2 separate regions of the Homo sapiens genome follow, and region 2 is linked to region 1. Evidence: fine-mapped expression QTL. A gene starts in region 1. The other region holds a variant in brackets. All regions are shown on one strand. Distances are from middle to middle. Region 1 holds the start of IBA57 (iron-sulfur cluster assembly factor IBA57). Region 2 overlaps LOC124904536 (a long non-coding RNA gene).

The links.
Region 2: its variant is fine-mapped to the expression of IBA57 in whole blood (INTERVAL, PIP above 0.99).

The regions. Positions count from the first base shown.
Region 1 is chr1:228,157,693-228,173,586 of GRCh38, reverse strand. It overlaps IBA57 (iron-sulfur cluster assembly factor IBA57), which reads right to left and starts at 7,783. Exons shown (of 3, transcript NM_001010867.4): 1 at 7,430-7,783. The coding sequence starts at 7,770. IBA57-DT (IBA57 divergent transcript) reads left to right here and starts at 8,075. Exons shown (of 2, transcript NR_103540.1): 1 at 8,075-8,113; 2 at 9,095-9,501. It overlaps LOC124904534 (a long non-coding RNA gene), which reads right to left and starts at 12,393. Exons shown (of 2, transcript XR_007066913.1): 1 at 10,134-12,393; 2 at 8,405-9,437. GJC2 (gap junction protein gamma 2) reads right to left here. Exons shown (of 2, transcript NM_020435.4): 2 at 13,761-15,847. The coding sequence starts at 15,828. The coding sequence ends at 14,509. RefSeq lists a silencer at 7,152-8,191 and an enhancer at 7,296-8,198.
Region 2 is chr1:228,191,101-228,206,994 of GRCh38, reverse strand. LOC124904536 (a long non-coding RNA gene) reads right to left here. Exons shown (of 2, transcript XR_007066917.1): 1 at 12,228-15,894; 2 at 3,415-9,427. It overlaps OBSCN-AS1 (OBSCN antisense RNA 1), which reads left to right. Exons shown (of 2, transcript NR_073155.1): 2 at 2,840-3,489. Among named protein-coding and RNA genes, the nearest start is that of OBSCN, 9.0 kb to the left of the region's middle. RefSeq lists an enhancer at 13,310-13,810. The variant G/A (reference allele first, on the strand shown) is at 8,322.

The DNA of each region.
Region 1 (15,894 bases):
CCATGCCCACCACCTGCCTCCCCAAGCCAAGTCTCAGAACCCAATCGGGGCCCCAGAGCCATTCTGACCTGCACTCCAGGCAGCCCTCCTCAGAGGATTTGGGCAGGCACCACAAGAATGACCCCTGACCAGACGGATGGTGGGAAGAGGAGAGGCTGGGCAGCGTGGGGCATGTCGGGGGGGGGGGCACTAAGTGGAGACACCTGGGGTACAGCCACCTCCATGGCTGGGGTTGATTGCAGGTATGGACTGCACAGGGCTTCACAGGCTGGTGGGAGCTGAGACAGGGAGGTAGTAAGACCCCCAGAGGGCCTTCCAGAGACAAGCCCAAGAGCAGGTGGCCCAGCCCCTTCCAGCCAGGAGAGGGCTCAGTCCTTGCCAGTTGCCCAGGGCTTCAGGTGCCAAGCAGGGGCCTGCTGCCCTCATCTCTGCAGTCTCACTCTACCCTGTGGTCATGCCCACGTGCCAGCAGCCACGGAGAACGTTCACGCTCATCACCCAGAACCAGTAGGCACAGGTCTCACTGAGGACCCTGCCGCAGGGAGGGTGGGCATAGCCAGCTGTGACAGCCAGTGAATCTGGCCCACACTCCAGGACAGCGGTCACAGGACATCAAAAACAACACCCACAAGGGAGGGGAACATATGTCATTTACACACGTGGGCTAAGATGACGGGAGGAACAGCAAGGACAGCACAGAGGGGCAGCCGCAGGTGTGCCGCGGAAAGGTCACCACGCCACCAGGGAAACACAGGCGATGTGGCCCAGACAGATGCAGTGGTGAACCTGAACACTGGCCAGCATGAGGAGAAACCAGGTCACTGGCATGCTGCTGGTGGGGAGGCAAAACGGGTGGCCCTCTGGAAGACAGGGTGCAGGTCCTCACAACACCAAACAAGCAACTACTCCACGACCTGGCCCTCTCACTTCCGGGCATGGATCACTGAGAAACGAAGACTGCAGCTCACACAAAACCTGCAGCGAAAGCTCACAGCAGCCAGCTATACTGGTAACAGCCAGAAAGGGAGAATCAAGGTGCCACTACACCATGTGGGACTTCTCAGCAAGAACAGGGAGCTGGAGATGGACAGAAGTGGGTGGATCTGAGGGCACTATGGTGAGGGAAAAGGGTAAGGCTAAAAAGTGACAGGCCGATGCATCCATCTATGACACTCCTGAAATGACACGATTTTACAGCTGAGAACAGGTTTTGGGGTGTTGGGGGTGCCCATTCAGGGGCAGGAGCAGGAAGCCGCGTGGGCCTGAGAATGGCCACAGATATTCACACGTGATAAAACTGCAGTTATACACATGCGTGCACAGACGCACAAAGTAAGACACACAAATCCAGAGACCCCAGATATGCCCTGTGTGTGCAATCAGGGGAACTGGGGAGGGGTCCGTGCGATCTCTCCCACGGGTTTTGTTTTGTTTTTTTTTTTGCAACTTCCTGTGAATCTATAATTATTTCAAAATAAGAAGTGAAAAAACAACAACAACAACAACAAAAAAAAAAAACAAGGAGCTTCGCCTGCAGAGGTGTCCGAGCACTACAAGAGGAAAGGCAGCAGGCAGTCCTTTCATCCCAGCCATCTGACATCAGCGAGTTTTTAACCACGTGCATGCATATTTGTATTTTTAAAATCTATAGTGGGGTCAGCAGACAAAGATGGACCAAAACACAGGTGAGTGGGGGACCCGGGCAGAGGGACAGATGTGAGGTCATGGGCACAGGATGCTGGGCGCCGGACAGGCAGGGAGGAGCTGAGCGACGCCAGGCAGTAGAGGGACAGAGTAAGGGGACTAGAGTGGAGCTGAGGGACCACAGGTCCAGGGTCTAGTGAGCCAGGCACACAGGCACAGGGGAGGCCGCAGAGCCCTACAGGGCAAGGGCAGGAGCTGGGGCAAGGCAGGCAGGGTGGGGCCAGGGTGCCCCATGGGTCCATCAGTCAAGAGTGGAGCCCAGAAAAGATCAAGCTGAGGGCCCCTGCACTCTGAGGTGGGGCCAGCTCAGCTGCCTGCCTTGGCAGGAACCCCCACCCATGCTGACACCCCCTGCTGCCCCCATCTGCTGAGCACTCCCTGGCCTCACACAGGGTGGATGTCCTCACAGGACCCAGGTTCTGGGGTCGAGGGCACTTTCCAGCTCTCTGTGCCGGTGACTGTCTACCAGGCAGCTTCTCAGGACCAGCTGAGCTGGGACATGACCCCCGGGCCCACCCCAACCCCTGCCACACCTGAAGACTGCCAGGAGACTTGCCTCACAGGAGAGCCCCGGCCTGGGGAGCTTTCTCAGCCTCATCATTCTCCATAGTGGGGGCTGTCCAGATGCTAAGCAGCACCCCTGGCCTGTACCCCACCCCATCATGACAACCAAAAATATTTCCAGATACCGCTGAGGGGCGCAGGGGACAGGGTTGCCAAAGAAAATATAGGGTACCTGGTTAAATCAGAATTTCACATCGACAACAAATTACTTTTTTTAGTATATCCCAAATACCGCATAGGATGCACCTACAGATCATCCGTTGCTCGTCTGAGACGGACCTGGGTGTCCTGTGCTTTTGTTTGCTGAGCCCAGAAGCCCCGGTGGGAGCAAGGGTGCAGGAAGAGGAGGGAGGTCAGGGGTGGCTCTGGCCCAGCCAACTGAAAGAAAGGGTCCCCTGGCCATCAGATCCAAGGGTTTCCAGTCATGTTCAGGAAAACACTGCTCTGGGACCCGGCCTGACTCCTTCCCTTCTCTCTCCTCCCTCCTCCCCAGGCCACCAGAGGCCTGACAAGTCTCTCCTGCTCCTCAGTGCTGGCCAGACACAAGGCCACAGCCCTGACACTCTTGGGCCTGCTGAGCCCTGCACTGAGTCCACATCCTTGCCCCGGCCAGCTCGCAGCAAGGCCACTGGACCACAATCCTACCTGCAACATGACCCTACAGCCTCTCTCTGCCTCCTACATGAAGAGAGATCAAAACCAACTGATAGAAAGGGACCCTAAGGAGGCCAGGCATGGTGGCTCATGCCCGCAATCCCAACACTTTGTGAAGCTGAGGCAGGAGAATCGCCTGAGCCCAGGAGTTCAAGACCAGCCCGAGCAACATAGTGAGACCTCAACTACCTGTAGTCCTGGCTACTTGGGAGGCTGAGGTGGGAGGATCACTTGAGCCCAGGAGTTTGAAGGTACAGTGAGCTACAACTGTGCCACTGCACTCCAGCCTGGGCAATGGAGCGAGACCCTGTGTCTAAAAAATAAAAACAAAAAAACTCAGACCCATATGAAAATCTGCACATGGATGTTTACAGCAGCTTTATCCATAATTGCCAAAACTTGGAAGCAACCAATATGTCCCTCAGTAGATGAGTGGACAAATAAACTGTGGTCCATCCAATGGAATACTAACCAGTACTAAAAGAAATTAGCTGTCGGCCGGGCGCCGTGGCTCACGCCTGTAATCCCAGCACTTTGGGAGGCCGAGGCGGGCGGATCATGAGGTCAGTAGTTCGAGACCAGCCTGACCAACATGGTGAAACCCCGTCTCTACTAAAAAAAGATACAAAAATTAGCTGGGCGTGGTGGTGCATGCCTGTAATCCCAGCTACTCAGGAGGCTGAGGCAGGAGAATCGCTTGAACCTGGGAGGCAGAGGTTGCAGTGAGCCGAGATTGCGCCATTGCACTACAGCCTGGGGGACAGAGCAAGACTCTGTCTAAAAAAAAAAGAAATTAGCTGTCAAGCTATGAAAAAACATGGAGGAATCTAAACGCATATCACTAAGTGAAGAACGCCAATGTGAAGAGGCTACAGATGCATGAGTCCAACTACAGGACATTCTGGAAAGCATGAAACTATGGAGACACTGAAAACATCAGTGGTGGCCAGGAGTTAGGGGAGATGGATGGATGGGCAGGGCACAGAGGATTTCAAGGCAGTGACACTACTGTATGTGATGCTACGATGGTAGACATGTGTCATCATACATTTGCCTAACTCATGAACACACCAAGCCAAGAGTGAGCCCTCATGGAAACTGTACTCCAAGTGATGATGGCATGTCAACAGAGGTTCATCAGTTGTGACGAAAATAGCACTCTGGTGGGGGAAGTTGTGAGGTAATATGGGAAATCTCTGCACATTCTGCTCTTTTGCTGAGAACCTAAAACTGCTCTAAAAAGCAACTCCTATTAAAAGACAACAACCAAATAACTATAGTTTCATCTGAAAGAAGGTGCTACATTCAGGAAACAAGAATAGGGTGCTTTAAGGAAGCGATGGCTCAGGATGATATATTAAGTATCAAAGTTGAAATAAAAAATCCTACAGTCAGGAAAAAACCATAAAGGAATGATGGGCAGGGAATGACCAGAGAAGCAGGAACACACAGAGGCTTCCAGGGAGAGGTGGTCCCTGACCTGCAGGCTGCCCTCTCCCCAGAGGAGTGACCAGAGGGGGCAAACCACAGAGAGGGAGGTCAACAGCCAACAGCAGCCCGACAAGGAAAAGAGTTTACACTCTCATGAACTGAACTAAACGTGCCCAACGAGCGCAGCCCTAAGCCCACCCATGCCACATAGCTGGGAGGGGTGGCATCTGGACACCTGTCACCCACCACCCCTGGGGAGACACTCAAGGAGGTAACCTTGTTGTGTCCCTCTTCTGACGGCTGAGGAGAAACAGGGCCATGAACTCCAACAGAACTGAAGCTAGAGGGTTTCAAGTATTATTACACAGATGCTGAATCCCACGGAGGATGGTCCCGCCCCACCTGACCCCTCAGAGTGGAGCTCCCTGGCCTGTGACGTTGTGTCACATCTCAGAAGGGAGACCAGAGTTGGATGACGTCACCCTTCAGTGCTGAGCTGGGGAAGAACAGAGCCGCCTCCAATGCCCTCAGCACTCAGAACAGTGGCGGACACACCAGACACCCAGCACAAGTGAAGAAAATTAACTCCTCCTGCAGACCTCGAGGACAGAGACCCCCACAATGAGAGCAAATAGAAAGACACAGAGGAGCCACCAAGCATATGCTTGGTAAGGGGAGCTGGGGCCCAGTAGGTCTGCAGACAAGCTCCAGACCAGGCAAGAAAGGATGAAGAGGAAAAAGCCCTGAGACACAGAAAGGACAGACAGCTGACCCTTGAATGATGCAAGGGCTAGGGACACTGGCCCCCACACAGTTGAAAACCCACCTTTAAGCTTTGACTCCCCAAAAGCTTAACTACTAACAGACTCCTGTTGACTGGAAGCCTTATGCATAACATACGCAGTCAAGTGGCACATATTTTTTATGTTTTATGCTATTATATACTGTATTACAATACGGTAAGCTACAAATCCCAGGAAGAAAATCCTAAGGAAGAGGAAATGTAGTTCCACTTCACTGAATGGAAATGGATCAACATAAACATCTTCATCCTCATGGTCTCCATGTTGAGTAGGCTGAGGAGGAGGAAGGAGAAGAAGGGTTGGTCTTGCCGTCTCAGGGTGGCAGAGGTGAAGGAAAATCCACGCATAAGTGACCTATGTAGTGCAAAGTCAGCTGTACTTTACACCACAAAACACTTATTAAGAATAGGAATTCAATTGAACTAGGACTCAAAGGGAAAAGGACAAGAGAGGACTATAGAAATATGGAAGGGAATTTGGGGACCAAAATCAACATCATTGTAAGGCTAACATGTGAACAGCAAAGTACTAACATAGAAGGCTCCAGAGAATCAAAGAATGTAGTTCTTAAGATGAAGAAATTAAAGCAGCTAGACAGAATGTAATGAATACATAAGACAGACTATGATGACTATATCTCTGAACTGGGACATGAAGATTTAAGCCTATTGAGCTAGGGTGGGCACACTTTTTCTGTAAAGGGCCAGTGAATAACTTAGGCTTGAGGGCCACACTCGTGCCACAACTCTACCACTCCAGACAAAAGCAGCCCCAGGCCGGGCACAGTGGCTCACACCTGTAATCCCTGCACTTTGGGAGGCCGAGGCGGGTGGATCACCTGAGGTCAGGAGTGTGAAAACAGCCTGGCCAATATGGTGAAACCCTGTCTCTACTAAAAATACAAAAATTAGCCGGGCATGGTGGCAGGCACCTGTAGTCCCAGCTATTTGGGAGGCTGAGGCGGGAGAATCTCTTGAACCCTGGAGGCAGAGGTTGCAATGAGCCAAGATTGTGCCATTGCACTCCAGCCTGGGCAACAAGAGCAAAACTCCGTCTCAAAAAAAAAAAAAAAAAAGAAGCCCCAGACCACCTGGAATCCAACGGGTGGGGTTCCCAGAGAATTTTATTATAAACACCGGCAATGGGCTGGGTCTGACCTCAGGGCCGTATTTCACCAACTCTGGTTCTAGATTTAAAGAGCCCACTAAGTGCCCAGAGATGTGATATGGAAAAAGCCCAAACTAAGACACATCAGCATGACATTTCACGACATCAAGAATAAAGAAAAGCTTCTGAGAAAAACACAGTTCACATACAAATAAGAACGGCACCAGACTTCTCAGAAAAGCTGGCAGCGAGAAAACAAAGTTGTGATGTGAACATTGTCGGTGACAATTTCCAAGCTAGATTTTTACACCCAGCCAGGATATCAGGTAAAGCCACTAGCAGAGACACAATGAGTCCAAAAATTCACCCCACGTAGCTCAGGAAGTCATTAAAAAGGTGTCCATCCCCTGAAACCAAAACACAGGAGTAAGCTGAAGAGAACAAGAACCGGGTCCGCCATAGCAGGGACAGCAGGCAGGCGGCCGCGAACCAGATCCACTCCACCGGGCGGAGGTTTCAGGGATCCAGGTCCCTGGAAGCTGGGCAAGGGAAACCCAAGGCTGTAAGCAGTCAAGGCCCTGACCCGGCATGAACATCACTGACAGTCGTGATGTCAGCACAGATGACTGAGCCAAATGCCAATGTGACCAGCTATGGGGAGACACAGGGAAACACAAGGTAAACAGAACTCGGGAGTGTCACCACAAGCTGTCACTCAGAAACACAGCTCTGCCACCAGGCGGGGCCCCTGAACCCCTTGTCCCTGCGGAGGGAGAAGGGTCACCAGATGGCCCACTTGGGAGGTGCCCACCTAGAGACGCCTCTGCTCTGATATGGTGGGCTGGCCCCCAGGCCTCCCCTGGATGAGTCGCTGACCCATCCCTGGGTGTTGAGCCAAGCCCTCCTCTGGGTGCCCTCCCCCGGGTGCTGGGCCCTGGGTGAGCTTCCCCTGGGTGTCCATCCCAAGTGGAATCTCCTGGGTGCCTGACCCTGAGTGCCAGTCGCTGGCCCACCCACCCTTGAGCTTCCACCCCATCCCGGCCCTCCCCGGGTGCCCACCCCCCACGCCCTCTGCAGGCCCCGGGCGCCCGCCCTGTCCCTGGGTGCCGGTCCCTGGCCACTCCCCTGGGTGCCCGCCCCCGAGCGCCCTCCCAGCACGCGCTCACCCGTACAAGATGACGTCATAGAGCGTCCGGCCCTGCACGTTCAGGAAGTGGGCGTAGCCCGCGCGCGCAGCAGGCGGGGCCCCCGCGGCCGCAGGACTCGGAAGCGGCAGTTCATTGGTCAGCAGCCCTAGCAGGAAGGGCGCCGCGTCGGGGCCACGCACGCGCAGCAGGGTGCGCCCGTCCAGCCGGAAGCAGGCCCAGGCCGCTCCGGCCGTTGGGTCGCCACCAGGACTGCAGGAGCTGTGGGCCAGGCGGCACCTTGGGGCCGCGCGCAGCCGCCAGCGCCAGACCGGGCCGCCGCGCCCCGGAGTGGCGCCTCGAAGCAGCGCCGCGGTCGCCATCTTGGACAAGAGTGGGGCAGCGGGAAGGGCCCAAGGAAGCGGGAGGGGCGGGTGCCACAGCGGCCCCTGGCGGTGGCCGCCGGAGGGAGGCGGGAAGGGGCGGGCGCAGAGTGCGTGCGTGAGGGGTGAACGGAACGTGCGTGCCTGAGGGGCGGAGCAGCGCCGGTTGAGGCCGACTGAGAGTGCGTGCGTGAGGAGCAGGGCCTCCCGAGCTGGAAGGGGCGGGCGGGGCGAGCGTGCCTGCTGGGTGGGTGGGGCATGCGTGTGGGGCGGAGCATCGTGCGCGGGGTGTGTTTCGGGGCGGGGACTCGGCCTATCCGTCAGCACGCAGGCTCCACCCTCGGTAGGTAACGAGGTTTCTGCCGGCCTCTTAAGCGCCATCCCATGTCCCATTCGGTGGCCTTCCTCGTTTTCACCCACCCATGTCGGGCACCGTCACTCATCTCGAGAACCTCTTCATCCTCCCAACCTGAAACTCCCTGTTAAACACCCACTCCCGAGGCCCTGGAGCTCCCATTGTACCTTCTGGCTCCATGAGCGTGCCTCCTCTAGGGACCTCACAGGAGCAGAATCCTACGGGATTTGTCGTTTGCGACGGCTTATTTCACTCAGCATAGTATTCTCAAAGTCCATCCACGGTCTAGCATGTATCAGCATTTTATTTTTATTTTTATTTTTATTTTTATTTTTTGTAAAGACAGGGTCTTGGTTATGTTGCCCAGGCTGGCCTCAAGCTCCAGAGCTCAGGCAGTCCTCCCTCCTCAGCCTCTTGAGTAGCTGGAACTACAGGCGCTAGCCACCACACCAGCTAATTTTTGTATTTTTTTTGTAGAAATGGTCTCCCCATGTTGTCCAGGCTGGTCTCAAACTCCTAGGCTCAAGCGATTCACCGGCTTTGGCCTCCCAAAGTGCTGGGATTACAGGCGTGAGCTACCGCACCCGGCCGCTTCCTCTTTCCTACCAGTTCGCCAGCGTCCACGTGTGGCTGTTGTGTCATTTTTTTCATTTGCTGGACCATTGGGACTTCAGCTGCAGGTGGCAGGAGGCTCCATCCCCAAGTGTCTCCACGGATAAGGACAGGCACCATCCAGCCCACAACCCCTCCGCACCCCTAATCAGTGTGACATGATGAGACACAATCACAGCTTCAAATCACATCCTTGGTAACTTCTGCTTTTTTCAGGCCAGGGTCACCCCCATCATGTGTCTATAGTCCTCTTCAGTGCAGGATTCCAAGCTCCCCTGGAGCCCAGCCTGTCCTCCCACAGGACGTCCTTCCAGACCACAGGACGTCCTTCCAATAACTCTCGTCCTCTCTTCACAGCTGAACTCACAGAGGACAATTTAGGCAGGAACCACACACTGCTATGACATATCCACCCCACCGTGCTTTCTCGAGGAGTGATGTCCCATACCCCCTGCTGAGCAGCCCTGTACAGTGGCCACTTTCCCTGGTAGTAGGTGACACATCTACAAGGTGGCCCCAGCAGCCTTCAGCCCTAGAGTCTGACTGCCCTGGTCCAAGCCATCCCTGCCTTGCTGGCCTCCTGGGGCCCATGCACCCTGTTGACATTCCCCTCTCCACTGCCCTCCACTCAAAGCACCAAAGAAGACTTACTCAATGTGTCCTTATGGTGCAGAGTCCCAGCAAGCAGAGGTCTTTGTATCTGTTGAATAAAAAAATTCCTCATGATGCGTAGTAACATCAGTGAGGAAGACTGCACCAAGGCGCATCATGTGGTGTGGGGCCCTGCCTGGCGGCCTTGGGGGAGATGGAGCTCAACCCCAACACAGCAGGGCAGAGGGTGGAGAAGCCGAGGAGCAGCGTGGGGTCTGTGGGTGGGAATGACTAAGGAGACATCAGGGCTGAGGGGTCTGGCTAAACCCACCTCACAGGGTCCTTGCTCTAGGCAGGCAGGGTGATCAGACGTCACCAGGTGATGGTGGAGGATGAGGGACCTGGTTGGATGTCATCGAGGGTGAGATATCCAGGGTGTGGGGTTCTGGCTAAACTGACTCAGTAGGGCTCTTACTAAAACTGGATTTTCCAAGCAAGTGCACAGATGGGCCTAGGAGAAAGTTCCAGATCCCAGCCGGAGTTTGGCCAAGCAGAAAGTCTCTGCCATAGCTCCCTGCCGTGTCCTGAGGGCCTGGGCCAGCAGCCGGCATGCCTTAGGGGCTCAGGTGACATTGGGCAGTCAGCGAATTCCCGCAGGCCCTGGATGTGGCCATGGAGGCCCTGCCGTTAGCCCACTCTCTTCACTGCAGCTTCCTCATCCCTGGAGCTCCCGCTTGCCCTTCTGGACCCTCCTCACAGCATCCCCACCTGCCCCAAGCCCTGTGAGGCCCCGGACCCTGCCTACCCAACCAGGCGAGGCTCCGGGCATGGTGAGGAGCCTGGAGCAAATCAGCTGGGTCCCCCAAGGTCCCTGGGCCTCAGTCCCCCGCCAGACGCCAGCTTCCTGACTGAGATAGGCCAGGCCTAGAATGCGCTCCCTAGCCACTGGCTGCAGCCGCCACCCCTTCCTCTGCCAGAGCCTGGCGTTCCTGAGGGTGACCCGGTACCCCCCGGGCAGCCCCATGCGGACAGAGCGGAAGGCAGGCAGGATGAAACCCGGGGCAGGGAGTGGCGCAGACAACACCCACGGGCGGGGGTCGAGTTCCTCTGGGCTCACGTCAGCCTGGTCCTCAGCCAGAGGAGGAATTTGCTTCCACCCCTGCACAGGCAGCAGGAAAGGCGTGCGGCAACCTGGTGCCCCGGGCCGGGCCCACTGGCTCCGAATCTGTCCTGCCTAGGCCCCCCCACCCCAAAGAAGCCACCACCAACACCAGGGGCCACTTCAGTTCGAATGGACTCAAAGGAAACAGAGCTTTCAGCTCCAGAGTCCTGGGGGCCACATTCCAGTGCCTGAGCCATGTGAGGCCGTAACTCCAGGCCACCTCCAAGAAGCCTTCCTGGACTCTACACCAGCCACCCTGGCTGCTGTTCTCCTTATCAGCAGGCAGGGGACTGGGGCCTGGCACCTGGGGGAGGAAACCCCGCCCCTGTCCTGGCTTCAGGGACCAGGCTGAAGCAGGGGCCAGGGGAGTGAGAACTGGAAAATGCCTGGGCGTAGGGGTCGCAGCCCCTGCTTCCCAGGTACTGTGGGGGGGTTGGGGGAAGGTGGTTTCCTGTTATTCTCGCCTCAGGGCTTCCTCCCTTCCTAGAGGAAGGAGAGTGCCACTGCCCTATTCTGAGGGAGTCTCTGAGCAGCTGGCCCCTCACCCCACTATGCACTCCCATGAGCAGCCGAGAGTTTTGGCTGAGGTTGTGGAAACGGATGGAGGTGAGACATGGAGTCCCATCCCGCCAGCCTGCTCCAGCACCGCCTGCTCTGGGTGTGTCCTGCTGTGTACAGGGCTGGGCCCACCAGCGACTGGCCCCCCTGCCAACCTGCCTCAGAGCTCGGAAGATGCAGGACAGAGGAGGGAGGGGGGCTGTGGTGTCAGCAGTGCCAGGCTCAGCTCATCACCGTCGTGGCCTCCCCAGGTGGCTGGGGAAACCAAGGCAGGGGTTTTCTAAAAGTGACTGATCAAGCGCCAGGAGTGCGAGATGGGTTTAGCTTCTGGGGGTCCGCAGACTGGAGCAACTAAGATACCACGTCCCACTGTAGTGGGAGATGCCAGGCCTGCGTGGTGGTGTGGGGCTCAGGCATGACATTGTGGGAACGTCCAGATTATCCAGGACTTGGTCTTAGAGGGAGGACTAGCAGATGGCGTGGAGGCTTGGGCTTGCACAGCCTCTCCTGGCTAGGGCCATCCCGCTGGGAGGGTGTGGTAACAGAGCCTAAGCCCACCAGCAGATGCTCACAAACCTGATGTGGCCCACCCACCCCCAAATGTTCAAGAAGGGAGGTCTGTCCCAGGGTCCCGTCTCCCCTTCTCTTGTGGCAATCCAGCTTCCCACTGGGCATATACCCTCTAATACCAGCAGAATTGTCCCCTCGAAACTCCTGTGCTGAAGCCCTAACCTCCAGGAACTTCAGAATGTGGCTATAATTGGAGACAAAGCCTTTAAAGAGGTGATTAAGTTAAAATGAGTTCATTGGGGTGGGTCCTAATCCACGGTGGCTGGTGTCCTTAAAAGAAGAGGAGATTAGGACACAGATGCACACAGAGGGACAGCTGTGTGAGGACACACGGGGGAGATGGCATCCACGGGCCAAGGAGGGAGGCTGCAGGAGGAACCAGCCTCGCCCACACCTTAATCTTGGCCTTCCCTTCTAGGACTGTGAGATAATCAGTGTCTGTTGTTTAAGGCACCCAGTGGATGATGCGGTGCTATGGCAGTCCCAACGGGCACACCCTCCAAGTTTGAGATCATTTCCAGCTTCCCTCGAAGCTGGGGTGCCCTTTGAACAGCTCTGGCTGGGGGATGTGTACTAGCCAGGGTTCTCCAGAGAAACAAAACCATAGGAAATATAGACACAGATACTATATACTATTTTTATATCTATATCTAGATATATAGCCAAAGACTAAAGTTTCCCAAAGAAGCAGCAGTTCTGCCTCCAGTCTGCCTGTGATGGCTAATTTTATTTATTTTGAGACAGGGTGTTGCTCTGTTTCCCAGGCTGGAGTGCAGTGGTGCCATCACAGCTCACTGCAACCTCGACTTCCCTAGCTCAAGTGATCCTCCCACCCCAGCCTCCTGAGTACTGGGACCACAGGTGCATGCCACCATGCCCAGCTACTTTTTAAATTTTTTGTAGACATGGGGTCTGTGTTGCTCAGGCTCATCTTGAACTCCTGGGCTCAAGTGATGCTCCCATCTCAGCCTCCCAAAGTGCTGGGATGACAGACGTGAGACAGTGCTTGGCCTGTGATGGTTCATTTTATGTGTCCATTTGACTGGGCCACAGGGTGCCCAGATATGGGGTCACACATTATTCTAGGCGTGTCTGTGAGTGCATTTCCAGATGACACTAAGACTTGAATAGATGGACTGAGGAAAGCAGATTGGCCTCTGCAATGTGGCTGGCCTCGTCTGATCAGGTGAAGGCCTGAACAGAACCAAAGGTGGAGGAAGGGTGAGCCATGCACAGTTGCCCAGCATGGCTGGACACCGCGGCCCCCACCACAGGGACCTGGCCTCCCCCGTGACGGCACCGCCAGCAGCACAGCCCCAAACCCTTCCTGTCTTGGAGAGGCTCCTGGTGTGTCCCCACTGGAGTGGACACCTGTTGGGGTTGGTGTTTGCTTTTCTTCCCTGAGGCTGCACTTTCGGCATTTCTGTCCGTGGCTCCCTGAGTCAGGGCTCACATGGGGCCAGAGGTCAGCCAGGCAAGCCCCAGAAAGGAGAGGGACTCAGCTTGCAGTTGGCATCTGCCCGGAGCTGGGCTTCGGTGAGACTCAGGGCTCAGCCTGGGCTTGAGTCTTGGCTGAGGGACACCACAGAGAGAGGGGTGTGCAGCCCAGGAGGGGCAGCCGGCCAGGCTGCACCAGGCCTAAGGGAGGCTGGGGGGTAGCCAGTCACCCGGAGTGTGCTCCAGGGGCTAATGAGCCCCCCTGCCCCTCGCCAAAGCCACCCCTGCAGGCTCTGGCCGACGTCCTGGTCATGACGGGGCCTGAGACAGCCGCCCTCCATCCACTGAGCTGCGGCCCAACCTGAGGCTCTGAGTGTTTTCTTTCTTTCTCACCATCAGTGCACTCCACCCTGCCCCACCCACCCCTGCCCCCGGCACGCTGCCTGGCACCGAGCAGGCCCCGAGTGTTGTCTGACAAGCTACAGGGGCTCGCCTGTGACCATACTCCCCTGCCAGTCCCTGGGGAGGGGTCTCCTCTCCCAGCCAGCCTGGAGCTAAGCCATGTCTCCCCATGTGGTAGCCATGCACACACACCCATGCATACACATATAAGCATACACCCAGACATGCACACAATGCACATACATGTGCATGCAGTCACACACATAGCCACACGTGCACATGCATACACATGCACACACAAGGTTATAAACAAGTTAGTTTTATTTTACTCCCTTTCCTCTTGAGGCTGGGTCTGAATTAGGGAGGAGGACAGACAGGCCACAGGCAGGAACCCAGAGCCCCATTCCCCCAGCATGGCCAAGCCCCCAGGCCCTGACCACCACCCATTGGGTCCAAGCTGCAAGGCATATCAACATCTTTGCAGAACTTCAAGCCTCCCAGAGGAACGGAAGGCCGGCATCGCAGAAGCTCAAAGAGGGTATGGTCCTGTCCACCCCAGGCTCCCAGCTCCCAGTCTGTCTCAGTTTGGGGCTGGGAAGGGGAGGGCTGAAGAAGGAGCCCCATTTGCTGTTGCAGGGAATGGGGACACGCACCCCCGCACCCCCACCAACTGATGCCCATACCAGGCACCCTGGGCCCTCCATGGGTTGCTGCAGGGAAGCACAAAGGGGAGAGCTGGCATCCCAGAGGACCTATTCCAGCTCAGGACAGGGGTGGAGTCAATGCCCCACTCCCCCTGGGGTTCAGACCACAGCAGAGGGCCCTTTCTGGCTCCTAGGCCTCTCTCCACCCCACCTTGGCCCCAGTGGTGACCAAGCCAGGGCACTCCTCTGCCGCTTTCAGCCCCTTCCCTGAGCAGCCTGGCTGCCCCTCTGGGCAGAGTCTGCCTGAGGCCACCGGCTAAGGAGAAGGCTGAGGAGAAGGGGTCGCAGGTTTCCACCGGAGCCCCCCAACCCTCCTCCTCCCTGGCCCAGCTCGCAAGCCAGCGCCCTCAGATCCACACGGTGGTCTTCCCGTCCCTGCTGCTGGCACTGCCCTTCTCGGAGCCAGCCCTGGGCTTGGCTCCTGGCCGCTCGTGGGTGCCGGGCCGGCCCTGCTCCCCGACAGTGCCCGCAGAGGTAGCACTGCCCGTCCGGGACGCGGGGGCGCCTGCTCTGGGGGGCCCCCGGGAGGCCGCAGGGAGGCCGACGCACGGCGAACTGTCCCGGTCGCGGTCCCCAGCCGCTGCCCCGTCGCGCAGCGCCTGCAGGGCCAGGTTTGCCAGGTTCTGGTCATGCGCCCGAGCGCGCTCGGCCGCCCGCACCACCAGGCTGTAGTCGGGCGGGCAGGCCAAGCCAGCGGCCGCCGCAGGGAAGGCGCAGGGCGGGGGCCGCGGCGCGGGGGCGGGGGCGGAGGCCGGGGGGCCGCGGCGGCCGCGCACCGCGTCCTGCGCGCTGCCCAAGCCCAGGTGGGCCATCTCACAGAGGTTGAGCAGCAGGCACAGGCAGCTGACCACGTACATAACCAGCAGGAAGACCGTCTTTTCAGTAGGGCGCGACACGAAGCAGTCCACCACGTGCGGGCAGGGCTGGCGGCTGCAGGGAAAGAACGGTCGCACCTCGAAGCCGTACAGCAGGTACTGGCCCACCAGGAAGGCCACCTCGAAAGCTGCCCTGGCCACCAGCTGGGCCACGTACACGCGCATCAGGCCCTCCCGCTGGATGCGCCTCCGCCCATCGTGTTGCCCGGTCGGGCCCGGGGTCCCTGCCGCCTTGCCGTCAGCGCCGACCGCCTTAGTGCACGCCTCCTCCGCGCCTGCCTCCTCCGCTTCCTCGCCGGCGCCCTCGGCTGCCCCCGTCTCCTCCTCCTCCTCCTCCTCGCCCAGGCCCAGCATGGGCTCCTCCTCGCCCAGGTCGGCGGGCTCAGGCCAGCCGGCGTGCGGGGGCGGCAGGTGCGCTCGGGGCGCGCGGCGTGGCCCCGGGCGGCGGCGGAGGGCGCGGCGCCGCTCCTGCTCAGACGCACGGGCCAGGCGGTGCACGGCGTAGCCCAGGTACATGACCGAGGGCGTGGAGATGACCACAATCTGGAAGACCCAGAAGCGCACGTGCGACAGGGGCGCGAAGGCGTCATAGCAGACGTTGTCGCAGCCTGGCTGCCGCGTGTTGCAAGTGAACTTGGCCTGCTCGTCCGAGTAGATGGCCTCGCCGCCCACAGCCGTCAGCACGATGCGGAAGACCACCAGCACCGTGAGCCACACCTTGCCCACGAAGGTGGAGTGGTTGTGGATCTCCTCCAGCAGCCGCGTCAGGAAGCTCCAGCTCATGTTGGTCATAGGGGCGGGCGGGCGGGTCCTGTGGGGCGGGGTAGGGGTCAGCCAGGGGCCTGCACTTAGGAGCCC
Region 2 (15,894 bases), 33 kb before region 1:
GCCCCAACGGGGGAAGAGCAGCCAGAGAGGGCCACCCAGTGGGAGCCCTGTGCCTTTCCATGGAGGGCCCAGGTCCAGAGGAGGAGCCGAGTCTCTACCCACAGAGGCCTCCATGGAGGGAGGAGGGAGCCAGGACGGCATGTGAGGCGGGACCCTGCACCCCGCACCTGGGGGCATTTATCCTGCGGTGTGCTGCCAACAGGGCCCCAGCTACCAGCACCAGGGAGCCAAAGAAGGGGCCGGCCGGGCAGGATCTGGAGCTGGGCCCAGGAGGACAGCTCAGGCTGTGGCAGGAGGGAGGGTGGGGAAGATGGGGGTGCTCAGAATCTGCTCTGTGCCTCCAGGCTTCGCCCCATCCCTGATCCAGTGCCAGGCCTCTATGTGTCCTCACAGCGTACCTCAGGCTCTTCCGGGCAATGGCCAACATCTCTCATGTGTCCTCAATCAGAAGGAGGGTGAGGGGTCTCTGGAGTAACGGTTATGCCATTCTGCAGCCTTATCTCATGACTGATCACTTCCAAAAGCTCACGTTCTAATCCTGTCACCTTGGGGGTGAGCATTTCAACGTGTGAATCTCCGGGACACACATTCAGTCCACAGCACCAGGGAGAAAGGAAAGGCTGGAAGGAGAGCCCACTCCCCCACCAGGAGCTTGGCCCTGAGCTGCCCCAGCCATGCAGAAGTGTGTGTGCATTGTGTGTGCTCGAATACGTGCCCCACCCCCTCCCGGACAGGGCCGTGGAGGGTGCAGAGAAGATGGCTGTGCGGGCCAGCCCCTTGCAGGGCCTCCTGGACCTGGGAGAAGCAATGCCCCCACAGCCTCCAGGAGTGGCCTGCCCTCCTGACCCTCTTCACTGCTGCCTGCTCCGCTGCATCTCCAAACACCACTGCCAGCCTTCAGGCTGGATTTTCTGCCTCCTTCACAGGACCCCTGTTGTTCCTTATTTCCCTGCAACGTATTTGTTGAAGACAGTGGGATATTCACACTACAGAGCTTCCGGAGGCACTGTGCCCAGGGTGTCCTTCACACCACGGGAGGCCACAGGATGCAGTGGCTGGCCATGGACCTTGCCTATTCCTGGCTGGAATCCACTGCAAAGAGAACTTTCATGGAGCTGCTGTCTGTTCAAAGGGGTACAGGTGGAGGAGGAGCAGACACAATTTCCTGAGGAAAGCAAATGTCACTGTGTCCCTTGAGTTGCCAGCTTCCACAGGGATGTCCCGCCATGAGCCCTCCTCCCAGGGGCTTTCACAGCTGGGTGGGCTGGCATCCTGGGTGCAGTTTAACTGAAGGGGGTGTTCTCACAGCCATCTCCCAAGGCCTGGGGGATGGTGGGCCCGGAGGCCTCAGACCTGCACCTGCTGCCCAGGCGATGGGGTGGCTGGGCCCCGGGTGCCCACAAACTATAGGCAAAAAAAACTGTAAGTCAGTCCTGCAGGGTTTCCTGAACATTTTATGATCCCCAAGTCGTATCTGAACATGTCAAGAATCTCTGGTGCCTTGGCTTGGGTGTAAAGATGAAGTTCTTTCCTCCTCTGTATTCCAGGAGGAAAGAGGGTTTTCATTCCCTTCTGAATGTTAGGAGGGAAGGCATTTTCCATCCTTGACCAGCTTGTAGATGACACACATTCAGCAAACGCACATCCCAGCAGCACCGAGAGAACACACAGGTGTGTCACGCTTTTGCGTTCATAAGGCCTTTTCATGTCAGTATCTTATTAGATATTCCCAAACAAGGGTGTTTTCTCATCTTATAGAAGAGAGGCCTGAGGCTCACAGGGTGAAAACAATTTGCTTAAGCCTGCACAGCAGCTGTGCTGGCAACGTTTCTCCCGGTATAAATGAGAAGCAGCCTTTGTGGCCACAGAGATGTGACTGCTAAGTGCATCGTCCCACCCTGAAGGAGATTCTTCCTCAACAAGAGGACATTAGTGCAAAGACTGATGAAGTCTGTAGTTTCGTGGGTTTTTTTTTTAAGCATAAGGGGTTAAATATTATGTAATTAAGTAATAAGGCAGTTGTGAGGATGCAACTGCCAAAAGTTTGAAAAAAGCTGCCCAGATGGAAATCTGCTTGCATTTGTGCAAGCAGATAGGTGAGGGATTTTTACTGTACTGCCGTGTCCCCTACCTGCCCCAGCTTTATTGAGTTATAATTGACAAGCAAAAATTGTTTATATTTAAAGTGTACAATGTGATGTGGCCTTTTTGTTTTGTTTTGAGACATAATCTTATCACCCAGGCTGGAGTGAAGTGGCGCAGTTTAAACTGCGCAGGCTCATCATCCTCCTTCCTCAGCCTCCTCAGTAGCTAGAACCACAGGTGTGAGCCACCATGCCTGGCTCATTTTTTGATTTTCTTTTTTTAAGAGACAGGGGTCTCCCTGTTTCCCAGGCTGGTCTTGAACTCCCGGGCTCAAGTAATCATCCCGCCTCAGCCTCCCAAAGTGATGGTGTTACAGGCATGAGCTACTGTGCCTGGCCAGAAATGGTAAATTATAATTAAAGGCTTCTGTAAGTCATGCTGTCATATTTTAATGGAAATACCTCCTTTCATTGCAGCTGGGTTGCTTACAAATACACTACTTCAAAGTAAACTTTCTCTAGTAGCATATCAGAAGCAAAGTAAAATCTATTTGGAGCAAGTAAATCTGACTGCTACCCCAGTAAGTTATTGTTTTAATTTTACTTACTTGTTATTGATATATAACTGTACATATTTACAGGGCACATATGATGTCCTGATGCCTGCATACAATGTGTAATGATCAAGTCAGGGTTTATGACACCATTCCCTCAAACACTGATCATTTCTTCACACTCCAAATCTTCTCTTCTAGCTATTTTGAAGCATACATGGGAAGCTGGTTCCTGGACCCCCGCATATACCAAAATCTGTGCATACTCAAGTTCTACGGTCAGCCCTGTGGAACCCAAGCATAGGACAAGCCGGCCCTCCCTATACACACAGGTTTGACATCCTGAGAACACTGCTGGTTCCCTTCCCATTTGGTTCCAGAAAATCTGCGTATAAGTGGACTCAGTGGTGCAAACCTATGTTGTTCAAGGGTCAACTATATATGATGAATTATTGTTACCTACAGTCACTCTACCATGCTACTAAACACTAGAACTGATTCATTTTCTCTGACTGTGTGTCTCTACCCATTAACCAGCCCCTCTTCATCTCCCTTCCCGCTTCCCTCCCCAGCCTCTGGTAACCATCATTCAGTTCTCTACCTCCGTGAAATCAACATGAGTAAGAACTGGTGAAACCCAAACATAGTCTCGAATTTAGCTTTTTTTTTTTTTTTAACTGTAAGAGGCTAAACATTCTTGAGGAGGACACAAAAAAGTCTGAAGACAACTGTCCAGATGAGAATCTTGCACTTGCACAAGTAGAGAGGAGAGTTAGTTTTTATACCATCGCATCCCCAATCCCAGCTTTATTGATGCATAACAAATAAAAATTGTACATATTTAAAGTGTACAATGTGATGCTTTGATATATGTCTACATAGTGCAAATTAGCTCCCACATACAAATGACAACATGCAATATTTCCCTTTCTGTGCCTGGCTTATTTCACTTAACATAATGGCCTCTAGTTCCATCCACGTTGCTGCTAATGACAGGATCTCATTCTTTTGATGGCTGAATAATACTCCATTGTGTATATGTACCATGTTTTCTTGGACATTCAAGTTGATTCCATATCTTGGCTATCATGAATAGCTACAGTGAACATGTACCCTAGTAACATATTGGATAGACACCACACACTTAGGTAGCATAAAACAAAAGAAAGTTATTTTCCTTATATATTAGAAACAGACTAAAGCTGTTTTGAAAAACACCTAATTTTCAAAGTTATTCATGTGTATTAAATTGCACCATAAAAATAACAGGGCCTTTGTCTTCCTGGGATTTTTCTCCTGGGCCTACCTCAGCACGTTCCTCTTTAGATCACATGTTAGGCTACTTTGTAAAGCTGGTCTGACAACAAGAAATGCTATTATGGAGGAAAAGATCTCTTATTTCAATTCTCTTGTTCTCCTAATTTGAAATGGGTTTGTTCATTTTGTTTCTATTTCAAGACCAAGGGGTAGAAGCTCTTGGTTTTTCTGTTTGTGCTGCAAAAAAAAAAAAAAAAAGAAAAAGAAAAAAAAATTCTATTCTATGGTGACAAAACATATTTTTAAAATCATCTATTACAAAATTAGGCAAAGTCACATCAAAAATGGGAAATAAAATGGAAAATCCTACCTTTTTAGATAAGGTAAATTGTAGAGAAAAAAATGATAATTACTAAATACGATCATTTATTTCACTTCTACATGGTAGAAGGTTTATTAAAATAAAGAGTTGGTGCACAGCCGCTGTGGAAAACAGTATGATGGTTCCTAAAAAATTAAATGTAGAATCCCCATGTGACCCAGCAATTCCATCTATCAGTATGCACCCAAAAGAACTGAAAGCAGGGTCTCGAAAAGATATTAGTACACCCATTTTATTTTTAATTTTAAAACATTTTTTAATAGAGATAGGGTCTCACTATGTTGCCCAGGCTGGTCTTGACCTCCTGGGCTCAAGTGATCCTCCTGCTGCAGCCTCCCAAAGCACCAAGGTTACAGATGTGAGCCACCGCAGCCGGCCCACCCATATTTATTGCAGCACTATTCCCAACAGCCAAGAGCTGGAAGCAACCCAAGTGTCCATCAACAGATGAGTGGATGAACAAAAGGTGGTGGATACACACAAAGGACGGCTATTCAGTTTATTTTATTTATTTATTTATTTATTTATTGAGACGGAGTTTCGCTCTTGTTGCCCAGGCTAGAGTGCAATGGCGCAATCTCAGCTCACTGCAACCTCCACCTCCCAGGTTCAACCGATTCTCCTGCCTCGGCCTCCCGAGTAGTTGGAATTATAGGCATGCACCACCACACCCAGCTAATTTTGTATTTTAGTAGAGACAGGGTTTCACCATGTTGGTCAGGCTGGTCTCGAACTGCTGACCTCAGGTGATCCACCCACCTCGGCCTCCCAAAGTGCTGGGATTACAGGTGGGAGCCACCGCACCGGGCCTTCAGTTTATTTTTAATTCAGCTTTTAAAAGCAGGACATTTGTAACATCTACAATAGAGATAATTCTTGAGGACATTATGCTGAGTAAATAAGCCAGGCACAGAAAGACAAAGACTGATTCCACTCCTGTGAGGTCCCCAGAGGATTCATACACATGGAGACAGAGGGTAGAATGGGGGTTCAAGGGCTCGGGTCGGGGTAAGGGGATTGGTGTGTCATGGGGACAGATTGTCAGGTTTGGAACATGAAGAAGCTCTGGAGATGGGTGATGGTGATGGCTGCACAACCACATGAATGCGCTTAATGCCACTGAACTGGACACTTAAAATGGTCAAAATGGTAAATGTTGTGTTCTCTGTATTTTAACACAATAAGAAGAATGGGGGAAAGTGAAGAGCTAGCCACTGAGACAACCAATCACAACACGGCAAGGGCTCGGCATGCCAGGACTCGGTGCCCACTGATCACAAGGCTGGGACCAGTTCCTCTGAAGCACAGGGGTAGCTCTGGCTGAGCTTTAGAAGGAAAATCACGTTGTCTTTGCAAAGGCGAGCCTGTGGTAAGAACCCTGCAGAGTTTGCATCATGAATGAAAAGAGCAGATCTGGGGACAGACACGTGAGACCTGAGTGCAGGAGCGCTGGGAAACCCATCCCCAAGGATGGGACTCTGTAAGGAAGTGGCTTTCTGCTGCAGTGAGCGCATTTCTTCACAATGCCACTGTATGTTGCCTCAGCAGACAGGGTCAGTAATTACCTTGGTTTTGATGTATTTGTGCCTCTTTTAATCTCCCTGATGGTTTCTGAATGTGTTTTTTGTTTGTTTGGTTTGGTTTTTGTTTTGTTTTGTTTCATTTTTGAGATGGAGTCTCGCTCTGTCGCCCAGGCTGGAGTGCAGTGGTGCAATCTAGGCTCACTGCAACCTTCACCTCCTGGATTCAAGCAATTCTTCTGCCTCAGCCTCCTGAGTATCTGGGACTACAGGAGCATGCTACCCACACCTGGCTAATTTTTGTATTTTCAGTAGAGATGGGGTTTCACCATATTGGCCAGGCTGGTCTCAAACTCCTGACCTCATGATCTGCCTACCTCAGCCTCCCAAAGTGCTGGGATTACAGGCATGAGCCATCACACCCGGACCTGAATGTGGTCTTAAAGGCCATATGTCTAGCATGTCACACATGCATAGGAAAAGTCTATGCCTCATTTTTAAATCCTACCTGTGCCAGAGAAAGCCAAATCTGAGATGCCCATCAGCTTCACTCCTAAGATGGTGTGAAAGCATCATGAGCAGAGGGCCTGGCCTTTAGTGACACCCAGCCCTATCCCTTCTGTGGGGAGGTCAGCCATGCCTGGCTCCCGCTCAAACAGGTATGTGTGTGTCTTTAGAAAAATAGTTGCAGAATCTTACTGGAAACCAAGTCTGCACACCACCAAGCCTTGTCACGGAGCTCCCAGTCAGATACTCCACAGCTGGGTTACTGGAACAGTTCAGGGTCTGTGGAATCATAGGACATGTATATCTGGGTCTTTGATGCAATCCAAGAAGACCACAGGCTGCCACTGCCCAGAAAACTGACTCCAAGATTTGCCAAAGGGGAAAAGAAGTTCACAAGGAGAGAAAGTTCTAAAGCGCTCCCCATAGGAACTGACTTTATTTGAAATAGCACATGGGAAAGGAAGTTCAACCCTAAGGGTGCTCTTGAAAACAACTGTTCCTCTTACTTAAGACCAACAAGCTCAACCTCAGGCCAGCTAGTTCACCAGAGGAACTTCAGCAGGACACAGCTAAGAAGAATGTCCTGGGTCAAAACAAACCTCAAAGACTGGGTCAAAATGACCCCCATGCCTGGTTTATTCACTCAACATAATAACCTCCAGTTCCATCCGTGTTACTGCAAATGACATGATTTCATTCTTTTTGATGGCTGAATTATATTCCATTGTGTATATATGCCACATGTTCTTTATCCATTCAGGTACTGCTAGGCACTTAGGTTGGTTCTACATCTTGGCTATTATGAATACTGCTGCAATAAACATGGGGGTGCAGGAAGCCCTTTGATATACTAATTTCCTTTCCTTTGGATAAATACCCAGTTATATGTATCACTAAACAAATACATAAGCAAACAATTGAAAAAGAAATCCAAGAGAGGGAGGAATTGAATCAGAATCCAGAGTTGATAGAATATATTGCCTGAAATATCCAGTTTTCAACAAAAATTAAAATTACGAGGCATGTAAAGAACAGGAAAGTATGACCTATACTGGAGGGAGAGGGAGAACAGACAACATAAACTGTGAGAGGATCCAGATGTTGGACTTTGCAAAGGCTTCAAAGCAGCTATTATAAATATGTTCAGAGAACTTAGGGAAACCACACTTAAAGAAGCAAAGGGAGGTACGATGATGATGTCTCATCAAATACAGAATAAAGAAACAGAAATTATAAAAACAACCAAATGGAAATTCTGAAGTTGAAAAGTACAATGTATGAAATAAAACACTCAATAGAGAAGCTCAATGGTAGGTTTTTAACTGGCAGGGAAAAAAAAAAGAGTCAGAACTTAAGGATAGATTGATAGAGATTCTGCAATCTAAAAAACAGAGAGAATGAAGAAAATGAACAGAGCCTTAAAGAAATGTGGGACACCATTAGGCACACCAACATACACATGAGAAAACCAGCTCCTCACATACAAGGGCAGCCCACTGAGATTAACAGCTGATTTCTCATTGGAAACAATGGATACCAGGAGACAATGGGATAAAAAAAAAAACAACAAGGCAGAGTGATTCAGCATGTAAACGTTTCTTGTCCAAAACAAAATTAAATGACTCTGATGATCTGGAATTCCTACTTTTGTGTGTTTAACTGCTCATCTTTCCCTCACCCAACCTTGAGCACCATGTGGGTACAGGTAACAAAGCACAGACCTCCTGAATCATTTCTTCTCACCAAAACAGCAATTAAAACAGAAACTTTAAAAAATCTCAATCAGAACATTAAGTACAACATGCTTAAAATTATGTTAACATGATTCATGTTAGTGACCATCATTAAAACTGATTTCAAATTCTGAAAGATGCTTTAAACCACCTGCTGGTGAGGACTGGGATATTGTTGGTTGACTTTTAAAAATTCTCTCATGGGTCCTTACTGTTTTCTCAATGTTCAAGATGAATTCAGTTGCAATTATCAACTCAGGTGAAAATCAAAAAATGACCAAACA[G/A]TTTGATAAAGGGTTTCATGAAGCAAAGCCTGTGTAAGAATTTTTAGGCCGGGCATGGCGGCTTGCGCCTGTAATCCCAGCACTTTGGGAGGCCAAGGTGGGCAGATCATGAGGTCGGGAGATCGAGACCATCCTGGCTAACACAGTGGAACTCCGTCTCTACTAAAAATACAAAAAATTAGCTGGGCGTGGTGGCGGGCACCTGTAGTCCCAGCTACCAGGGAGGCTGAGGCAGGAGAATGGTGTGAACCCAGAAGGCAAAGCTTGCAGAGAGCCAAGATCGTGCCACTGCACTCCAGCCTAGGCGACACAGTGAGACTCTGTCTCCAAAAAAAAAAAAAAAAAAAAAAAGGATTTTTAAAAATGTAAAGTGCAGGAATTTTAATAATCTATCCTGCATCCACTGAAATAAATGCCAGAAAATGCATATAAAAATTGGCCCATCGCGCCACTGCACTCCAGCCTGGGCGACAGAGCGAGACTCCATCTCAAAAAAAAAAAAAAAAAATTGGCCCATAGTATTTGCCAAATCTTTGAAAAGGCTATGCAAAGTCTTTTTGCCATGTCCAGGGAAAATGAACCTCTGGGAACCCTTGTCTCAGTGTCAGCAGCATGGTTCTCAGCCTTCTCCCTCCCTGTCATAATTTAAAATTAGAGCCTGTAGAGCCTGGTGGTCACATGGAACACGGTGATTCCTCCTGCCCCCAACAGCTGCCATGTCTCCCTGGAAATGCTAAGATTAGGACAGCACAGATTCCTAGAGTAAAATTAAGGGCCACAATTAACTGGGTGACTTAATTTGGCAATCTTGCAATTCCATTATGATTAGAGAGTGGCTCTTCTCACTGCCATGACTGCTACAGAGTGACTCAGGGCCACCGCTCACTCTGATCTTTCTGAAGAACTTCAAGATCCCAGTTCATGTTCTCCTGGACATTGGGTTCTGAGGGTCAGTTCATGCAACATCCCGTCATTGTCTTCTTGTCCCACTGCTGTGTTGGGAGATGCCCTGGACAGAGTCATTTGTAGAGCACACCACTAAGCTGTCCAGGGCTTCCATGTGGCCACTGCTAGCTCTTCAATAGCCAGCGCCAGGGCTAGCACATCTAGAAGAGTCAAGAGAACAGGCCATTAAGGACAGTGTGCAGAGAAAACAGTCCCAGCAAGAAACAGTCTCTACTCTCTAAGCATTGACTCTTGAATGTGCTAAGAACCTACTCAGGAAGCTGTAGTAATTAAGACAGTCACTCGGGGTTAGAAAAACAGGCCAACGAAAGTAAAGAGAGCCTGGAAACAGGCCCTCACACATTTAGATACCAAGGTGACCCTGTGGAGGAGTGAGAAAAATGTTCTGGATAACAAGATATCTTTTATTTCTTCTAAAAAGAAAGAAAACTGGAGTACTACTTCACACTTATCATGGGTTGAGTGGTGTCCTCCCAAAAAGATATGTTGAACTCCTCATTCCCAGAATCTGTGGATGGGACCTTACTGAGGGACAGGGGCTATGCAGATACAATGAAGTTAAGATGCTGTCCTCAGGGTGGGCTCTAATCCAACCACTGGTGTCCTCATAAGAAGGAGAAATTTAGTCACAGAGACAGACATACACAGAGATGAGATGATATAGAGACAGACAGGAAGAGAGTGGCCATGTGAAGACAGAGGCAGAGACTGGAGGGATGTGGCCACAAGCCCAGGGGCACCTGGAGCCACTGAGAGTTGGAAGAGGCAACGAAGGATCGTCCCCTGGAACCTCTGAAGGGACCATGACCCTGCCCACCCCTTGATTTCAGACCTCTATGGAAGAGTAAAGTCTATTTTTTTAAGCCATTCAATTTGTGGTTATTTATTACAACAGATATAGGAAATAAATACAATGCCATACACGAAACTCAAGCTGATTAAACGTGGAGTTGCCATATAATCCATCACTTCTACTGCTTGATAAATACCCAAGAGAATTGAAACATATGTCCACACAAAAATTTATACATGCTTGCTTGTCCACAGCAGCATGATTTACAATAGTCAAAAGATGAAAACAACCCAAATGTCTATCAACAGACAAATGGATAAACAAGATATGGTATATTCATGCAATGGAATATTAGTAAGCCACAGATGGGAATGAAGTATTGATCCATGCTACAAAATGGATGAACCTTGAAAACATTATGCTCAGTGAAAGAAGCCAGACACAAAAGGCTATATACTGTATGCTTCCATTTATATGAAATATCCAGAAAATGTAAATCCATAAAAACAGGAAGTAGACTGATGGTTGCCAGGGTCTGCAGGGGGAGTAGGGGATGGAATTTTTTAAAATTAAGCTGAGATGAATTTTAAAACTCAACTGGAAAAAAAAGCAAAACAAACTCTTTTAGGATACAATTGAGAACATTTTCAAGCAAGTATTTCTTCAACAAGACACACCAAAAAAACACATATCCCAAATAAGGAAAAAAATAAATTTAATTACATTAAAATGTAAAATGACTATCCAACAAAAGACACCAAAAACAAATGTTGAAAAAGATGTCTGTTACACAGGTGACTTACAGAAATTCTTACCCATGCATTACGATACAGATGCAAGAATATTCAAGGCCAGGCACAGTGGCTCATGCCTGTAATCCCAGCACTTTGGGAGTCTGAGGCAGGAGGACTGCATAAGGCCAGGAGGTCCAGACCACCCTGGGCAACATGGGGAGACTCTGTCTCTACAAAATAAGGTTTTTAAAAACAGAATATTCAAGACAGCTGATGGTGGCAAAAAAAAAAAAAAAACTGGCAACAAACTCAATCACCAAGGGAAGAATCAAATGAATCACAGGACAGGTCTGTCAAAGGTGGGGGCAATCACAGGAAAAAATGCAGTGGACCCTCATGCACTGATGGGGGATGACACCTGTATTACTCCGGATTCTCCAGAGAAACAGAAACAACAGGAGATGGATATAAGTGTCTCTCATTGGTTCTGTATGAACCAGTAAGATACATGATACATGAGATGGATGGATGGATGGATAGATAAGATAAATAGATGATTGACAGGTAGGTACAGAAGATTGATAGATGGATCTAGATAGATTGGATACATGGATGGAGATGGATGACTGACAGATATTGATAGATAGATGACAGACCAACAGACTGAGTGATTATAAGGAACTGGCTCACACGACTATGGAGGCTGAGAAGTCCTAAAATCTGCGGTCAGCAGGCTGAAGACCCAGGGAGCCCACAGTACCATTCTAGCCTGAAACTCAGCAGGCTCAAGATCCAGGAAGAGCCAATGTCTCAGTTTGTGTCCAAAGGCAGGAAAAGACCAACGTCCCACCTCAAAACATTTGGGCAGGAGGAGTTCCCTCTTACTCAGCCTTTCTGTTCTATTCAGGTTTTCAACTGATCGGACAAGGCCCACCCATCTTTGGAAAAGCAATCTGCTTTACTCAGTCACTGACTCAAATGCTAATTTCTTCCAAAAACATCCTCACAGATACACCAGAAATGATGTCTGACTAAATGTTTGGGCATCCCGTGGCCCAGTGAAGCTGACACGTAAAATTCACCATCATGACACCTGTACCCAGCATGGAAAGGCAAGCTGCAGAACATCGAGGGTGCAACCCCAGCTAAGCTGGGAAAAGGGCTACTTGAAAGTGTTGTGTGTGGATATAAGTGTGTGAGTAGAGACATCTATGTCTGCAAGCACAGATGCATCTGGAGGTGAGCACAGACTGCTGACCATGGTGACCTTCAAGAAGATGGAAAATGGACAGGCTTCTTACTCCATGTGCTTCTGTACTGTTAAATTTTATTCAACAAATACACATCCCATTTCCAGTTAAAAAATAACAGGTCCCAGCTGGGTTGAGGACAGGAGCAGCCTTAAACACTTACCGAGCAGCAAGTATAAGGAGCTGATCAGAGCAGCAGAGCAGTGGTTCTCAAAAGTGTGATCCCAGCAGCCTGTGGGTCCCTGGGGCCCTCTTATGACCCCCGAGGTCCCAGTGGTTTCCATGGTGATGCTGAGGTATTGTTTGCCTTTGTCATTCTCACTCCATCATGAGTGTAGAGTTATCTCAAGGATGCAGGACTCCAGTTCAGAGGATCAAAGCTAGATGTTAAAGAGATTTGCCCTCATGATCCAAACACCCCCTACCAGGCCCCGCCTCCAACACTGGGGACTACATTTCAATGTGAGATTTAGTGGGAACACAGATCCAAACTGTATCAAATGTTATAAAAATAAATTTGAAAACAGGTGATATGGACAAGTTCCTCGAAAAACATAATCATCATTTCAATTCATACTCCCCAAAACTGATAAATTTCAACAAACTTTTGTGATTTAAAAAAAAAAAAATCTTAGCAAACTAGGATTTCCAGTTATAAGAACTTTCTCAACCTCAAAAAGAGTACCTACCAAGAAATGTCAACAACCACCAGACCAAGTGGTAAAACAATGATGAACTTTCCTTTAAGATCAAGAGCCAAGTGAGGCACCAGCACCCCTGTTTAACCTGACCCATCAGAGAAAGGAATGGGAAAAAAACTAAACATTTATGGATTACCAAAAACAAACAAAACTGTCATTAATTTAAGATCATATGATTGTCTAAAGTAAAAGCCCCAAGCTACCTATATAAAAATAATTACTAGGAACAATTAAAATTTAGCAAATTTATTTCTAAACATCAGTAACAAAAAATTAGATAAATGCAATTTCGCAAGGATGCCTTTTGCCACAGTATTAAAATTATTTTAAATAAATACATTTAACAAAAGATATATAAGGACTTCAGAAAAATTATACAAACTTTGCAGAATTAAAGTAGGCATAAATAAGCGAGAGACGGCCAGGCGCGGTGGCTCACGCCTGTAATCCCAGCACTTTGGGAGGCCGAGGCGGGCGGATCACGAGGTCAGGAGATCGAGACCATCCCGGCTAAAACGGTGAAACCCCGTCTCTACTAAAAATACAAAAAATTAGCCGGGCGTAGTGGCGGGCGCCTGTAGTCCCAGCTACTTGGGAGGCTGAGGCAGGAGAATGGCATGAACCCGGGAGGCGGAGCTTGCAGTGAGCCGAGATCCCGCCACTGCACTCCAGCCTGGGCGACAGAGCGAGACTCCGTCTCAAAAAAAAAAAAAAAAAAATAAGCGAGAGACATGTAATGTTTTTGGACTTGAAAACTCAGTAACACAAAGACATCAGTTCTCCCCAACTTGACCTACACATTTAATGCAATGCTGATCAAAATGCTATTGTGTGTGTGCATGACTATGTGTGTAAACAGGCTGACTCGAAAATTCACACAGATAAGTCAAAATGTTATTTGAAGAAGACCTTAGCTTGTGATAGCATCATGCCAGTTACTAAGAATGATCCTTATGGTACAGTAATTAAGACATCACGGTACCAGCACAGAAGCAGACAAACAGACAGGGTGGAGCAGAATGAGAAGTCTAGAAAGAAACTCACACAGGTGAACGCATGGAGTCTGACCAAAGTGGCACCCTGGGTCAGTGGGGAAAGACGAACTTTCAGTGAATCGTGTTAGGACAGCTAGTTATGTCAACCAGAAAATGTTAATTCCCACCTCACACCATACATCCACACCAACCCCAAGTAGATTAAAAATCTACAGAAGAAAGGTCCAGGCCAGGCGCTGTGGCTCACACCTGGAATCCCAGCTCTCTGGGAGGCCAAGGCAGGCAGATTGCTTGTGCCCAGGAGTTCAAGACCAACCTAGACAACATGGCGAACCCCCGTCTCTACAAAAACTACAAAAATTAGCCAGGCATGGTGGCGCAATGCCTGTGGTCCCAGCCACTTGGGTGGCTGAGGTGGGAGAATTGCTTGAGGCCAAGAATTTAAGGCTACAATGAGCCATAATCACGCCACTGCACTCCAACCTGGGTGACAGAACGATACCCTCTCATTCATTCATTCATAGAAAGGTATAACTACAGAAGTTCTTATCATGAGGTTAGGGCGGGGAAAGAATTTTTAAGCAAGGCACAGAAAGCACAAACCTTAAGAAAAATAAATAAAAGTTCACTGCACTGGAATTAAAAACTCCTGTCCCAAAAGACACCATTAAAGAAAGACAAGCCTCACACTGATAGAAAATACAGGCAATACATAGAACTGACAAGGATACGCAGATAACGCCTACAAAATCAGCAAGAAGGACAAGGGACTTGGAAAGGCCTGGGACAGGAAAGAAACGGGTGTGGCCAATACACAGAGGGACAGACGGGGCTCAACCCATTCCCAGTCGGGAAATTAAATCCAAGAAACGCCTCTGCTGACCCGTCCACCTGGCGCCTGGGCTGCAGGCCGTGTGTCCACAGGCCATGTGCCCGCAGGCTGTGTGCCTGCAGGAGGAATGCAAACCCTCACCACTTGGTATCCCCTCGCAGCGGCCCTCCATTCTCTGCAGCAGAACGCTTATTGGGGACTGCAGGGAAAAAAGCGTCATTTTCCTCCACTAAGGACAGTTTCTGAACAGTGCCCCCGCCCTGCCCCACAGTGGAAGACTGCAGACCCAGCACCCTATGGGCCCCCAGCCGGGGGTCCTTCCTGGGCTGGTTGGGTTTGGCCTCGAGTACATTGCGACGCTGTGAGGAGGGCCAGTTGCGACACTGTCAGTGACTGCTTGAAAACGGAATGAACTGTCTGTCCACCCAGGTGATGTGAGTAGCACTACTCACAATGGACACGAGGTGGAAGCAGCCCAGGCATCAGATGAATGGATAAACAAAATGACAAACAATCTGATCTTAAAACGGACAAATGACTCAAACACTTCTCCAGAGAAGACACACAACCAACCAAAAAGTACATGGGAAGGTGCTCAACATAGTAACTAGAGAAATGCAAATCAAACCACAATGAGAAATTACCTTGTACCAGGCCAGGCACAGTGGCTCACGCCTGTAATCCCAACACTTTGGGAGGCTGAGGCAGGTGAGCTTGAGCTCAGAAGTTTGAGACCAGCCTGGCCACATGGTGAAACCCCATCTCTACTAAAAATACAAAAATTAGCCAGGCATGGTGGCACACGCCTGTAGTCCCAGATACTCAAGAGGCTGAGGCAGGAACCTGGGAGGCAGAGGTTGCACTCCAGCCTGGGTGATAGTGTGAAACCCAGGCTCAAAAAAATAACAATAATAAAATAAAAAAGAAATTACCTCGTATCCATTAGGATGGCCACTATCCAAAAGCAGAAAATAACAAGTGTTGGCAAGGATGTGGAGAAACGGGAATGCTTGCACACTGCTGCTGGGAATGTAAAATGCTGCAGCTATAATGAAAAACAGTATGGAGGTTCCTCAAAAAATGACACACAAAACTCCCACATAATCCAGCCATTCCACTTCTGGATAGATACCCAGAGGAATTTTATTCTATTTTTGTAGCAGTGGGGTCTTACTATGGTGCCTGGGCTGGTCTCAAACTCCTGGCCTCAAGTGATCCGCCCATCTCAGCCTCCCAAAGCGTTGGGATTACACATGTGAGCCAACATGCCCAGCCTTGCCCAGAAGAATGGAAAGCAGGGTC